Linked DNA regions of Homo sapiens. The protein of the gene in region 4 interacts with the protein of the main gene of each other region in a pairwise test. Each region holds a gene or a part of one and is shown on either strand. Other genes may lie near its edges.

Region 1 (3,500 bases), on a different chromosome or scaffold from region 4:
GATTACAGGTGTGAGCCACCGTGCCCGACCTTGATGACTTTCTTTCTCAGTTCCTGTAATTACTCCCACAGGTCACAGAAAGTGGAAGGCTACCACCTCCCTTTGTGATGTAAATGATGTGCCATCATTTACATGCCATCCTTCCTGTTCCTTTGGACAACTGGATCCAAAATCCTCAAGGTTCAAGTCAGGCTACTACTTAACGTTTGAATCCCCTCTACAACCCCACACCAAGTGGCCCTCCAGGCTATATGCCTCCAGCAGCAGGGAACTTACCACCTGTCTTAGGCTCATTTCCATTTTGCTCCATCGGGAGGAATGGTTAGGGCCCCTAGCCCGCCAAGACTTGCAATCCCAACTGCAGGTGGTGTTGGGCTTTGTTTAACTGTGGACTGATGGTGTCACTGGGGCCTTTGATTTCGGCCCATTCACCTTGGAGGATTCTTAGGCCACCTTAGGGCTCTGTTTTCAGTGGTGCCCAACAATGCCACTATAGACCTGAGAGAGTCCCTGTCAAATGTACTAGCAGGAAGTCACTGCTAGTGGGATCATGTGGGGCCCCAGCTTAATTCCCTCATCATTTAGTCTCCCCAGCTGTGGAATGAGACTGACTGAAAGCTTAGGGACACTAACTAGTCTTTTAGAATATCTACCCCTAGTCAGGATGATAGTGATGTTGGCCCAAATTCCTTTGGGGGTTATACTTTTTCTTTTTTTCAAACAAGGTCTTGCTCTGTGACCCAGGCTGGAATGCAGTAGTACGATCATAGCTCACTGCAGCCTTGACCTCCTGGGCTCAAGCCATCCTCTCGCCTTAGCCTCCCAAGTAGCTGGGACTACGGATGTGCAGGCCACCACATCTGACTAATTAAAAAAAATTATTTTTGTAGAGACGGGGTCTCGCTATGTTGCCCAAGCTGGTCTCAGACTCCTGGCCTCAAGCAGTCTTCCCGCCACCTCAGCCTCCCAAAGCATTGGGGTTACAGGCGTGAGCCACCATGCCCCACCTGATTATACTTTTCAAAGTGCTTTAGCCCCTCTATGGTATTTGACTTCACAGCAGCTCTCTAAATGCAGTTACTTGAGGGGAAATCCAAGGGGGAGAAGGAGATGTCCCCTGCTCAGTGAGGTCTGTCACAGTGTCTTCCCTCCTCCCCGTGGGCCCTGTGTGGCACCAGTAGAGTCACCAATGGCGAAAGCCAGTGTGGATCATCCCAAGGGCCTGGGAGCAATGTGAGATTTTTTCATTTGATGTGAACAGACACAATAACGGTTCACATTTATTGAACCTTTTCTGTGGTGAGGTATTGTGCCAAATCCTCTAAATATATTCCTTCATCTAATTCTTACGACCGCTCCATGTGAGAAGTACAGCCACCTCCATTTTACAGATGAAGAAACTGAGGTTCAGACTGGTGAAGTGACTTGTCCAAAGTCATGTGGACTTGGGGCAGGAGCCTGGACACGAGCCCAGCCTGCAGGCTTGCAGGCTCCTAACTACCAGCCTGTGCATCACCTCTCACTAAAAACAAAACCCAAGCCACGTACCCCGCAAACGCTTCATATCTGACTTGTGTGGAGGTGACAAAACCGATTCCTGAAGCTTTGTGTCTGGTGGGTGTGAGACACTCTCGCAGCTGCTCCCCAGTGTGAGGGCTGCCTCAGTCTCTCACCTGCCCTTTGAGGAGGTAGCAGGCTGAACAGTGTTCAGAACTCAGTGTGTCCTCAAATCAGCCAGGTGGGTTTGCCTGTAGGTGCTCAGAACCATTCGGGTTCCACTGACATCAGGGGCTTGGCTCTAGCCTCTCCCAATTTTTGAAGAACTAGACTCCCACATTTGCTCCCTCTAGCCACCAACAACTCTTCTCTACTTCCCTTCAGATTAATTGGGGTTGGGGAAGAAAATGTTCATTGCCCATGAAAATTATCTTGGAGAAGTTGGCTTCAGTAGCCTCTTTATAGGCTTGGGGGCTGCTTGGACAAGGAGGTTCTGTGTGTGTAGAGGGGCCCATGAATATTACCATTTGTTATTTTTAGTTTTTCCAGGAAATTTGTAATCATGTATCATTTTTTATTCTCTCCCCTCTTCCTCCTTCTCCTCACCCCATTCACTTGTGTCCCTCTTTTATTTCTCTTACTTCCTAATTCTTATATCATGCTTGCATGTCTTACATTCATCCTTCAAGACATGATTTGAATGTCACCTCTTCTAGGAAGCCTCCCATGATGTCTCCAGGCAATTTAGCAATTCCTCTGCTGCCCCTTGTGTATATCTTTATAACAGCTCTTAGAAAGTGAATGTCATTATTTACTCAAACATCTCCACTTCTTCACTGGATGGCAGGTAAGTCCCTGGAGAAAAGAACCTATGTATTCCATAGCTTAGCGTAGTGTTTGGCACATAGTAGGTGCCTGTATAATAGTTACAGAAGGAAGGAATGTTTCTTAAGCTTTTATGTCTCGTGTGACTTTAAAACAAAAATAACAACTGGGTGCGGTGGCTCACCCCTGTAATCCCAGCACTTTGGGAGGCTGAGGCGGCGGATCACGAGGTCAGGAGATCAAGACCAGCCTGGCCAACATAGTGAAACCCCGTCTCTACTAAAAATACCAAAAAAAAAAAAAATTAGCCAGGTGTGGTGGCGGGCACCTGCAGTCCCAGCTACTTGGGAGGCTGAAGCAGGAGAATGGCGTGAACCCGGGAGGCGGAGCTTGCAGTGAGCCAAGATCGCGCCACTGCACTCCAGTCTGGGTGGCAGAGCGAGACCCCGTCTCAAAAAGTTAAATAAATAAATAAATAAATAAAACAAAAATAACAATAACAACAATCTCTTGAAGAGGCTGTTGTATTTGTAAAACGTCCCTTCCTCAGCATCTTGAGAAACTTTCTGGACCTCTGTCTTTTGAGAAGTTTCCAGTCTGCCTTTCCTGCCTCCTTCTCCTTTCTGAAGAAATTCTCATTGAATACAGAGAGGCAGCACAGACTGGAAATGCTGCATAAAGCTTAAATTGGGCAGGGCCCAAGCGTTGTTGGGTCTTTGGAGACAATGGCTCCTGAGAATTTTTTTAGGCTTTCCAGGAACTACAGAGAGTTGCTTCATGTCAGGAACACAAATTCTTAAAGAGCTAGTCACCAAGTATGGGGGGCCAACCCATTCTTGGAAAGGTCTCTCGCTCTAAGCAGCAAACAGCTCTCATGTTGCTTCTTCCAATCTATTCATGTAATGCTCCCAACAAAAGCACAAACACCACAATATGAAATGAACACCTAAAACCATTCCTTTCACCAGCCCAGGGACATTGAGACAATAAATACTGAAACAATCACTTCAGAGCAGTGTGTAACAGAAGACAAGAGTCATTTTAAAAAGCAACAGGGAAAAAACCCAACCCAGAAACCCAGATAGTGGTGGAAATTAACATCTTGATAAAGACAGAGAAGCCTAGATAAAGCCAGAGGATAGTGTGTGGGGAGAGTGAAAACCGATACAAATTTTCCA
Region 2 (3,500 bases), on a different chromosome or scaffold from region 4:
GAGCCGAGGTCGCGCCACTGCACTCCAGCCTGGCAACAGAGTGAGACTCCGTTTCAAAAAAACAAACAAAGAAATATCAAAGCAATCACTAATTCATTTATTCTACAATATTGAGTAACCCTCCAAGGGTTACTAGCATTTTATGCTAGATGCTAAGAGGACACAAAGGTGAATGAGACTGTGGAAGGGGCTTACGTTTAATAGTACCAATAATAATACTGACATCTGTTGTGCACGTACTCTGTGCCAGGCACTGTGCTCAGCATTGTATATCCACTGATTCATTTGATCCTCTCAGCAGTATTGTGAGATGGTTGTTACAATTTTCCTCATTTTGCAGGTAAGAAGATGAGGCACAAACAGGTTAAGTAACTTGACAGTGATGAATCTCATAGAGGAGGCAGTGCTTGGACTGGGCATATGCTGAGATAAGATACAAAGATGAATACCTATTATATGAGGGAGAAAGTTACAAAGGCCATAAGAACACAGGTAAAGTGTTTCAGGAATTTAGAATCAGTTAACCACTGAGGAAATGTACTGTGTAAGCAGAATCTTTGGCACATTGCAGATAGTTGAGGTTGTATATCCTTTTTTAATTGTGGAGGTGGTAAGGATTGACACTGCAAAATGTTCTCTCAGTCTCAGACCACGTGACAAATGCCCAGGACTAACACACCTTCTTTACTTCCCAGGCTGTTGTCCCTGGACCGGCAGAGCATCCCCTGCAGTACAACTACACTTTTTGGTACTCCAGGAGAACCCCCGGCCGTCCCACGAGCTCACAGAGCTATGAACAGAATATCAAACAGATTGGCACCTTTGCCTCTGTGAGTTCTTGGTGAATTAATGGAGTGTGCCTTGATAGTTCGTTCATGCCTGTATTGATATGATGTTTATTTACTTTCCTAGTAACCTATTTAAGATTCTGGTTTTCTTAATTGACTGACCTGAGTCTCCGGAGTCAGATTTGTTCATTCTTAGGTTTCTCACTAGATATCCATGGTTAGCATGTAGGTATCAACAAATATGAGAATTGTAGAGTTGATCAGAAGGGCATAATACAAAAGAACAGATTTGGGTTTTTTTATTTTTATTTTTATTTTTTAATTGAGACAGAGTCTCTTGCTCTGTCTCCCAGGCTGGAATGCAGTGGTATCATCTCAGCTCATTGCAACCTCCGCTTCCTGGGTTCAAGCAATTCTTCTGCCTCAGCCTCCCAAGTAGCTGAGATTACAGGCATGTGCCACCACGCCCAGCTAATTTTTGTATTTTTAGTAGAAACGGGGTTCCACCATGTTGGCCAGGCTGGTCTGGAACTCCTGACCTTAGGTAATCCACCCGCCTTGGCCTCCCAAAAGGCTGGATTACAGGAGTGAGCCGCTGCACCTGGCCCTGTTTTTTTTTTTGTTTGTTTTGTTTGCTTGTTTGTTTTTTTTTTTAAGTATATATTTATGGAGTCCTTACTAAGTTCAAAGTGTCATGGATACAGAAGTTTATAATACATGGTGTCTATCTTCATGAAGTTTGACAGTAAAGTGAAAAATTTTGAAAGTTTTGTATTTAAGAACCTCCCATTAGGGTTTTGGCTGTATTAATGATTATGCATAAAATATCTTTTTCCTGTGTTCAGAAAGAAAATGAAATCTCTAATAATTGCTTTTGTGGGTACTGGCAGTCAGAGAGCCCAGACTGTCTCATCTCTCTCCCAGGTGACTTGGTTTGTGTACCCCAAGAATCCATCTGCAACTAACACCACTCTAGTTGAACAAAGGTTATTATGTACCCAGTGTGTGCTGTACATTCAATCTCTGGGCAGAATCAAATGTGGGGTTTGTCATTTTCTTGAAATTGGTGAAGTATTAGTCCTGTTTAAAATGCAGAAACTACGGGGGAGCGGGGAGGGATAGCATTGGGAGATATACCTAATGCTAGATGACGAGTTAGTGGGTGCAGCGCACCAGCATGGCACATGTATACATATGTAACTAACCTGCACAATGTGCACATGTACCCTAAAACTTAAAGTATAAAAAAAAAAAAAAGAATGATTCAGTGTAGTTGTATGCTAGATATATTATATGGAATTATCAGCAGTTTACCAGTTGGTTCTTTATTAGTACTCCTGATGTCTTAAACAAAAATGAATAATTGTTTATCTTTTCTCAAAGTGTCTCATCTGTTCAGTAACAATCACGGTTTTCTCCAACAGTCTTGCATATTACTTTTTTTTAAAGTGCTTTGGTTTGAAAAAAATAAAAAAATAAAATAAAATGCAGAAACTAGAAAAGAATACTCCAGTAGGAAATACTACAACAAACTGCTAAGGAGGAAGGACATATAATACATACTTTATTTGTATAATTTCCTTCCAACATTATGATAGCCCTATGAGGTCAGTGATATTATCCATGTTTTACAAATGAGGAAAGTAAAACTTGGGTTAAGTGTCTGATCTAAAGTCTCAAGTTATGGTGGGGCACGGTGGCTCATGCCTGTAATCCCACCACTTGGGGAGGCTGAGGTGGGAAGATTGTTTGAGCCCAGGAGTTTGAGACCAGCCTAGGCAACGTGATGAGACCCTGCCTCTACAAAAAAAGTTTAAAATTAGCTGGCTTGGAGAAAACGGGAGCATTAAAAAAAAAAAAAAAAAAAGGCTGGCCATGTTGGCATGCACCTGTGGTCCCAACTACTCAGGAGGCTGAGGCAGGAGGATCAGTTGAGCCTAGGAGGTTAAGACTACAGTGAGCCTTTTTTGTGCCACTGCACTCTAGCCTGGGCAACAGAGATAGATCCTGTCTAAAAAAATTTTTAAATTCTCGAGTCAGTCATAATTCACTGGATTAAGTCGAGGAGCCAGTATAATTGAAACTCAGGTACAGAAGCTTCCAGATAGCTGAACACATGGAGGTGCCTGGAGGGTGGTGCGCCTAGAGGGGACATAGAAGCTCCCTGAACCTTCCTCCATACCTTCCCCCATACCTTGCCCTACGCATCTCTTCATCGTATCCTTTGTTTATAATAAACCAGTAATGTAAGGTACCAAGACAATAACCGGGGAAAGAATCGTCTTTTCAACAAACATTGCTGAGACAACTGGATTTCCAGGTGCAGAAGAATGAATTTGCATTCCTTCCTGACACCATACACAAAAAGTAACTAAAAATGGATCATAGACCTAAATGTAAGAGCTAAAATTATAAAATTCTTAGAAGAAAATATTAGTAAATCCTAATGACCTTAGGTTAGGCAAAGCCTTCTTAAGTAACACACTAAACGCACAAGCAGCAAAAGATTAAATACTTGGCTGGGCGTGGTGGCTCACGCCTGTAATCCTTGTACTTTGGGAGGCCAAGGCAGGAGGATGACTTGATCTCAAGAGTTTGAGACCAGCCTGGGCAACATAGTGAGACCCCATCTGTATAGGATTTCATCAAAATTCAAAACTTTTCTGCTTCAAAGGACGCTATCAAGAAAGTGAAAAGATAGCCTACAAAATG
Region 3 (3,500 bases), on a different chromosome or scaffold from region 4:
GAACACCCTCTGGTTTATTCAGACATGCAGCGGGCCCCTCACGTCACCCTTTGCTTGCAATGCCTACCCTGGGCCCCCGCTCAGAACAGCCTCAGCCCCGGCCCTGGAGCCCCCTGGCCTGTATCCTTCTTCTGCTCCGTCTCTGTCCTCCTGTTGAGGCCCTGCCCTGCCTGGCTTGCCTGGGCCCCCGCCCGCAGCTCTCCCTGCTGCCCATGGCTCCGTGAAGTCTGCCTGGACTTCAGGTGGATGTGTCTGAGGGGGTGGGAAGTGGCAGTGGCCAGCATGCCCTTGGAGGCCCCAAGCCCCGGCCCTGGCCTCCCCAACCCCCCCTTTTTTTTTTTGAGACGGAGTCCTGCTCTCGCCCAGGCTGGAGTGTAGTGGCGTGATCTCGGCTCAGTGCAAGCTCCGCCTCCCGGGTTCATGCCATTCTCCTGCCTCAGCCTCCCGAGCAGCTGGGACTACAGGCGTCTGCCACCACGCCTGGCTAATTTTTTGTATTTTTTAATAGAGACGGGGTTTCACCGTGTTAGCCAGGATGGTCTCGATCTCCTGACCTCGTGATCCGCCCGCCTCGGCCTCCCAAAGTGCTGGGATTACAGGTGTGAGCCACTACGCCTGGCCAGACCTGGCCCCTTCTTGCCTCACCTCTTGCCCTATGCTCCGGCCATCCCACAGTGGTACCAGCTGCTGCCAGCCCTGCCCGGCTTCTCCAGGGCCACCCCCCTCCCTGTGTGCTTGGTAGGCACAGCTCACAGGTGGCTCCTTCTAAGACATTCCCTCCATCAGCAGCCCTGGGACAAGGTGCTTCTGAGGCCCTGGACCAAGAAGGACGAAGAGAGGACTCGAGCCTCATAGCCTAGCTAGCCCCACATGGCTGAAGCTCCCTGTGGTGGGAGGGATAGGAGGGGCAGGGCAGGGCAGACATGGTGTCGCTCACAGCCACACCGTGCTACTCCGGTTCGGCACCTCCCACTGACGGATCAGGGTCCCTAGGGAGTGGGAGATGAAGGGGAGCCCCGGAAGGCACCCGGTCCCGTGCATTCACTTTTCACAAGGAGAAACGGGGACCAGTATGGTAAGCGTGCTCAGCTTGGAGCCCACTGTGGGGCATTACCTTCACGAGGGGGGCCATCAGCCCAGCAGGGAGATCGAAGTAGGGCACATTGGGGACCAGGCTGGGGTCATCGTGGTTGATGTGGGGTGGGCCCTGTCGCCGCATGTGTGGGGGCTGCCCGTTGAAGCCATGGGGGGGAGGGCCGAAGTCAGGGTGCTGGGGTCCAGCCCAAGGCGGGTGCTCGTTGATGCCAGGATGAGGCATGCGGTGGCCAGGGTGGTGGTGAGGGGGCCCCATTTCTGCAAAACAGAGACTTGCCTCAGGACCACAGGCCAGTCAGGATCTCCCAGGCGACAAGTGCTGGAGGGGAGGGGCTCAGTGAAGGGCCAGGAGACGAACCCCTCCTGGGAGCCTGTCCAGCATCTTCTCTCACTGCTTAAGACCAGGCAGCAAGGCACCGAGGAGCCAGGCTCCGAGGGGCCTGTCCCGCACCCATAGGCACAGCCGAGGGAGCTTGAGGCTGAGAGAAGAGAACCCCAAAACCCCAAAACTGCACGGTGAGGGCTAAGTTGTGACCCTCCGAATCCATACGCTGAGGTCCCAGCCCCCAGTAGCTCAGGACGGAACTGTATTTGGAGACAGAGCCTTCAAAGACACAAATGAGTTAAAATGAAGCCATAGTGGCCCGAATCCAACGTGACTGTTGCCGTTATAATAAGAGATTAGGACACAGACATGTAGAGAGAAGACGGTCACCTATGAGCCAAGGAGACAGGCCTCCAAGACACTAACCTGAACCCGCCACACCTCCACCTTGGACCTCCAGCCCCCAGATCCTTAAGACAATACATTCCAGCTGTTGAAGCCGTCCAGGCTGTGGGACTTATCATGTCAGCCCAAGCCAAAAAGTAAAAGCAATAAATGTGCCAAGCGGTCTTCAAGCTGCATTTATAATCAGAAATGTATTTAAAGAGAGAAGGCTGGGCATGGTGGCTCACGCCTGTAATCTCAGCACTTTGGGAGGCCAAGGCGGGTAGATCACTTGAGGCCCAGAGTTTGAGACCAGCCTGGCCAACATGGCGAAACCCCATCTACTAAAAATACAAAAATTAGCTGGGCATAGTGACTGATGCCTGTAATCCCAGCTACTGAGGAGGCCAAGGTGGAAGAATCACTTGAACCCAAGAGGAGGCTGCAGTGAGCCGAGACTGTGCCACTGCACTCCAGCCTGCGTGACAGTGAGGCTCAGTCTCAAAAAAACAACAAACAACAACAACAAAAGGCCAAGCGAGGTGGCTCACACCTTTCATCCCGGCACTTTGGGAGGCCGAGGCGGGCGGATCACCTGAGGTCAGGAGTTCGAGACCAGCCTGGGCAACATGGTGAAACCCTGTCTCTACTAAAGACACAAAAAATTAGCCAGGCATGGTGGCGCACACCTGTAATCCCAGCTACTCGGGAGGCTGAGGCAGGAGAATCATCTGAATCTGGGAGGCGGAGGTTGCAGTGAGCTGAGATTGTGCCATTGCACTCCAGCCTGGGCAACAGGGTGAGACTCTGTCTCAAAAAAAAAAAAAAGTACTAAAAGATTAGAAATAAAATCAATAACAAAGATACTAGGCATGGTGGCTCACATCTGTAGACCCAGCTACTCTAGAGGCTGAGGTGGGATGACTGCTTGAGCTCAGGAGTTTGAAAGTAGCCTGGCCAACATAGCAAGACCCCATCTCTATTTAAAATAAAATAAAATTTTTTTAAAAAAGAAAAGTAGTTTTTTGTTTTTTTTTTTTGAGACAGCGGTCTGTCGCCCAGGGTGGAGTACAGTGGTGCGATCACAGCTCACCGCAACCTCAGCCTTCTGAGCAGCTAGGACCATAGGCGCCCGACACCACGCCAAGTATTGATTTTTTAAACGAACTAATACAACGGGAAAACTGATGCAAAAAACAAGCAGCAGCAGTAAAAAGAACGAGGCCCCGCCCTGCCCTCGCCACGCCCACCCACGGCAGGAACCTTTTCCTACTGGCTCTGCCTCATCTGCAGCCAGCCGGGCCTCATCAGGGCGGCAAAACTGAGTCTGTGCCCCCACTTCCTGAGAACCCAGGCCGGGCTCCTCGGACGTCCCATGACCCTGTGTCTGTCACTGTGCACTCAGGAGCATGGCAGGGCCACAAGCAGCGCCACCAGCCTGCTCGGCAGGCGAGCCGTGGATGCCTCCGCCAGGCCCTACCCAGGCGCCCGTACACTCACCGGCAGGGAAGTCCCCCTGGGGGTAGTCGAAGCGGTGGGGATAGGGCGGCCGCTCGAAGGGGTGCCGTGGCGGGAAGTCGTCCTGCATGAAGCGGGGCGGGAAGCGGTTGAAGTTGTGGGGGTGCGGAGGCTGGTTGAACTGCGGGTGCTGCTGGTGGGGCGGGAAGGGCCCCCGGAAGTGTGGGGGCCGCTGCAT
Region 4 (3,500 bases):
GAGGCTGAGACAGGAGAATTGCTTGAGTCTGCGAGGCGGAGGTTGCGGTGAGCCAAGATCACGCCACTGTACTCCAGCCTGGGTGACTGCGAGACTCCGTCTCAAAAAACAAAAACAAAAACAAAAAACAACAACAACAAAGGATACATTTAAGAAAAAAAAAAGGATACACTTTTCCCCATTTTTTATATGGCCTTGGGATTTATGCTATCAATTATAGTTTAATCTCCTGAAATTTTTATAGTAGTTATATGTGTGTGTGTGTTTGCCTGTAAGAGAAAGAGAGATGGGGGAGAGATAATGCATATAGAGGATGGTCAGTCATCATAATCACAGTTACTCTTTATGGAATTCCTGTTTTGTACCTGGCCCTAAGTATTCTGCGTACATTATTTTGTTGCATCCTTTCAGCAGATCACATTTATTATAGGTAGTAAATGGCCTGAATGTGATGGAGCTAGGATTGGAATGTAGATTCATCTTATTCTTCATCATCATTATCCTCACCATAATCATCATCAAAACATTTATTCCACACTTACCACATATTAGGCACTGGGCTAATTATACGTATCTACATTATTTTATTTAATTCTTATAACAATCCTATGAGATAGATGTTATTATTAGTCACATTTTTTCTGATGAAGTACCTAAGAGTTAGTTCAATAACTTGGTCAATATGCCACAGCTGTTAGATGGTGGAGCTGAGACCTGTTCTATTCCACTAACTCTGTGTCCCCAAGTTGTATAATTCACATAATGTTCTCTAGGAATGGGACCCTTTGGATCTCCACTAAAAGCATGTTACCTCCCGAGGTTCTGCAATATTGTTGGCCCTGCAGAGGGTGCACTTTTTGTTTTTTTTGAGATGGAGTCTCGCTCTGTTGCCCAGGCTGGAGTGCAGTGGCGCAGTCTCGGCTCACTGCAAGCTCCGCCTCCCAGGTTCACGCCATTCTCCTGCCTCATCCTCCCGAGTAGCTGGGACCACAGGTGCTCGCCACCACACCCGGCTAATTTTTTTGTGTTTTTTAGTAGAGACGGGGTTTCACCGTGTTAGCCAGGATGGTCTCGATCTCCTGACCTTGTGATCTACTTGCCTCAGCCTCCCAAAGTGCTGGGATTACAGGAGTGAGCCACTGCACCCGGCCTGCAGAGGGTATACTTTTAACCACTATGTTCTTTCTACTACCATGCTGCTTCCTTTAGAAGTCAGTAAATTATACAACTTTAGATCTTTATAAGGAAGGGCTAAGTAGCCTGCAGCTGTCATTTCTTAGTTCTTATAATTTGTCAATTATAACAAAGTGAAACGTGCCTTTTTGTTTTCTTTCCAACTACTTTTTAACAAATTTTAGACAAATTTGTTATACATGACAGTTATCTAAGTTCTTGTGCAGGAAAAATAAGACTTTTTGTCCTTTATCAGCATACAATTCTTCTGTTGTACATGATGTAATAGTTTGAAGCTGCCAAAGTCCAGCCCTCAGGAAATTGTTTGAGTTGAGTAACTATTCGCTGGAGAGTTTAAGATAACCAGCTCATAAATCAACAAATAGCTTGGCCCTTTTTATGGTTGTAGATGCTTATCTCTTTCTATTTTCAAGCTTGAATCAGAAGCAAATATTGTTTCCATTTATATAGTCACTATTAGAAAAAGTTGTCAGCAGTATCTCAAGCTAGATAAGGCCATTTTGTGAGTTCTTTTCTTTAAGGAGAGTCAGAATTTATCAGGATGTTAGAATTGGTTGTTCTAGGCTAGGTACCTTCAAACAAAAAGTTTTCTCTTTCAATGAAACTGTCAGTGATTCAATGCCTATTATATTCAACCTCTGTGTGGAATTAGAAAGATGCCCTTAAGACAAAATGTAGTCCACGTACCCAAATAACTGTAACATGAGGGAGAATGTGAGTATTGTAATCCAAACCCCACCATGCACTGAGAGCACAGAGGAGGATGAAATAAATTGGGAGATTGGAAAGGTGAGAGGGTGAGAGAATGATCTGGGAAGGCTTTTCCTTGTAGGATAGTTAAGATTTTCAGCAAGAATAAATGGAGAGGAAAGGCATTCCAGAGAGAGGCAATATTAGAGTCAAGACAATGAGAAAGTAAAGGACAGGGTATATTTGTTATAAAGAAAGGAGTCTAGTGTACTTGGAGTGGAGGATGAGTGAGAGGCACATAATGGATGATCAATGAAATGTTTGATCAGTGAGTGAATGAGTAGATGAAGCTGGAAATGGTGGTAAGGTCCGGTGATTCTCAAACTTTACGCTGGTGCCAGACATATTTAATTCTATCTTATAATTAGGAATTAATTTTTTTTTTCTTTGAGCTGGAGTCTTGCTCTGTCACCAGGCTAGAGTGCAGTGGTGCGATCTTGGCTCACTGCAACCTCTGCCTCCCGGGTTCAAGATTCTCCTGCCTCAGCCTCCTGGGACTACAGGCACGCGCCACCACGCCCAGCTAATTTTTGTATTTTTAGTAGAGACGGGGTTTCACCATGTTGGCCAGGATGATCTTGATCTCTTGACCTCGTGATCTGCCCACCTCAGCCTCCTAAAATGCTGGGATTACAGGTGTGAGCCACTGTGCCTGGCCAGGAATTAATTTTATTGGCAGAATATGTGAATATCAAAAATATGCAGCATAAAAATCACAATCATGAACATGATTCAGTGATATGATTTGGATGTTTGTTCCCTCAAATCTAATGCTGAAATGTGATCCCCAATGTTGGGGCCTAGTGGAAGGTATTAGATCATGGGGGTGGATCCCTCATGAATAGCTCAGTGATGAGTGAGTTCTCACTCAGTTAATTCACACAAGATCTGGTTGTTTAAGAGAGCCTGAGACCTCTCCCTTGTCTCTCTCGCCATGTGACACCTGGGCTTCCCTTTGCGGTCTGTCATGATCGTAAGCTCCCTGAGGCCTTGCCAGAAGCTGAGCAGATGCTGGTGCCATGCTTCCCATACACAGTGCAGAACCATTAGCTGATTAACTTCTTTTCTTTATAAATTACCCAGCCTTGGGTATTTCTTTATAGCAGTGCAAACATGGCTTAACACTGTCAGTTAGGAAAAAAGGTGTTAAAATAGTTCCAATTGACTGCTTTGATTTTTTTCCCTCTTAATTTTGCTACTATTTGTTCAAGTTTCTGTAGTGCTAGCAGTAGACTAAGTAGGTAAGAAAAAATTATGGTAGAGAAACTTATGAAAAATCCATCTATTAATTTTCTTTCCTGTGAATTAGAAAAATACCATTGTTCTTTTCCAGCCAAAAGAATATCTCCCTCTAGGAGCCATTAAATATTTTGAAAAGGAGTGACATGGTGTGGAATGTGTTTTAGGAGTCAGGTGGTAGTGACATGTAGGATTAGAGGACTGGCAATGAGTCAGTAATGTGGTGCAGTGGTCCAGATGTGGTGAGGATCTGAACCTTAGTAGCAGCAGCAGTGAAAATAGAATGAAAGGAAATAGAGATCCACACCAGGCCCTCT

What was found.
Region 1: the proteins of USP54 (region 4) and HNF1B interact in binary tests that used the Homo sapiens proteins (3 or more experiments, as listed by UniProt).
Region 2: the proteins of USP54 (region 4) and EIF4E2 interact in binary tests that used the Homo sapiens proteins (3 or more experiments, as listed by UniProt).
Region 3: the proteins of USP54 (region 4) and CHERP interact in binary tests that used the Homo sapiens proteins (3 or more experiments, as listed by UniProt).

What each region holds. Positions count from the first base shown.
Region 1 is NC_000017.11:37,735,060-37,738,559, forward strand, and holds part of HNF1B (hepatocyte nuclear factor 1-beta), read right to left. Parts: intron 1-3,500. UniProt on the Homo sapiens protein: Transcription factor that binds to the inverted palindrome 5'-GTTAATNATTAAC-3'. Binds to the FPC element in the cAMP regulatory unit of the PLAU gene. Transcriptional activity is increased by coactivator PCBD1.
Region 2 is NC_000002.12:232,557,189-232,560,688, forward strand, and holds part of EIF4E2 (eukaryotic translation initiation factor 4E type 2), read left to right. Parts: intron 1-695; coding exon 696-830; intron 831-3,500. UniProt on the Homo sapiens protein: Recognizes and binds the 7-methylguanosine-containing mRNA cap during an early step in the initiation. Acts as a repressor of translation initiation.
Region 3 is NC_000019.10:16,521,938-16,525,437, forward strand, and holds part of CHERP (calcium homeostasis endoplasmic reticulum protein), read right to left. Parts: coding exon 3,305-3,500; intron 1,354-3,304; coding exon 1,115-1,353; intron 1-1,114. UniProt on the Homo sapiens protein: Involved in calcium homeostasis, growth and proliferation.
Region 4 is NC_000010.11:73,584,843-73,588,342, reverse strand, and holds part of USP54 (ubiquitin carboxyl-terminal hydrolase 54), read left to right. Parts: intron 1-3,500.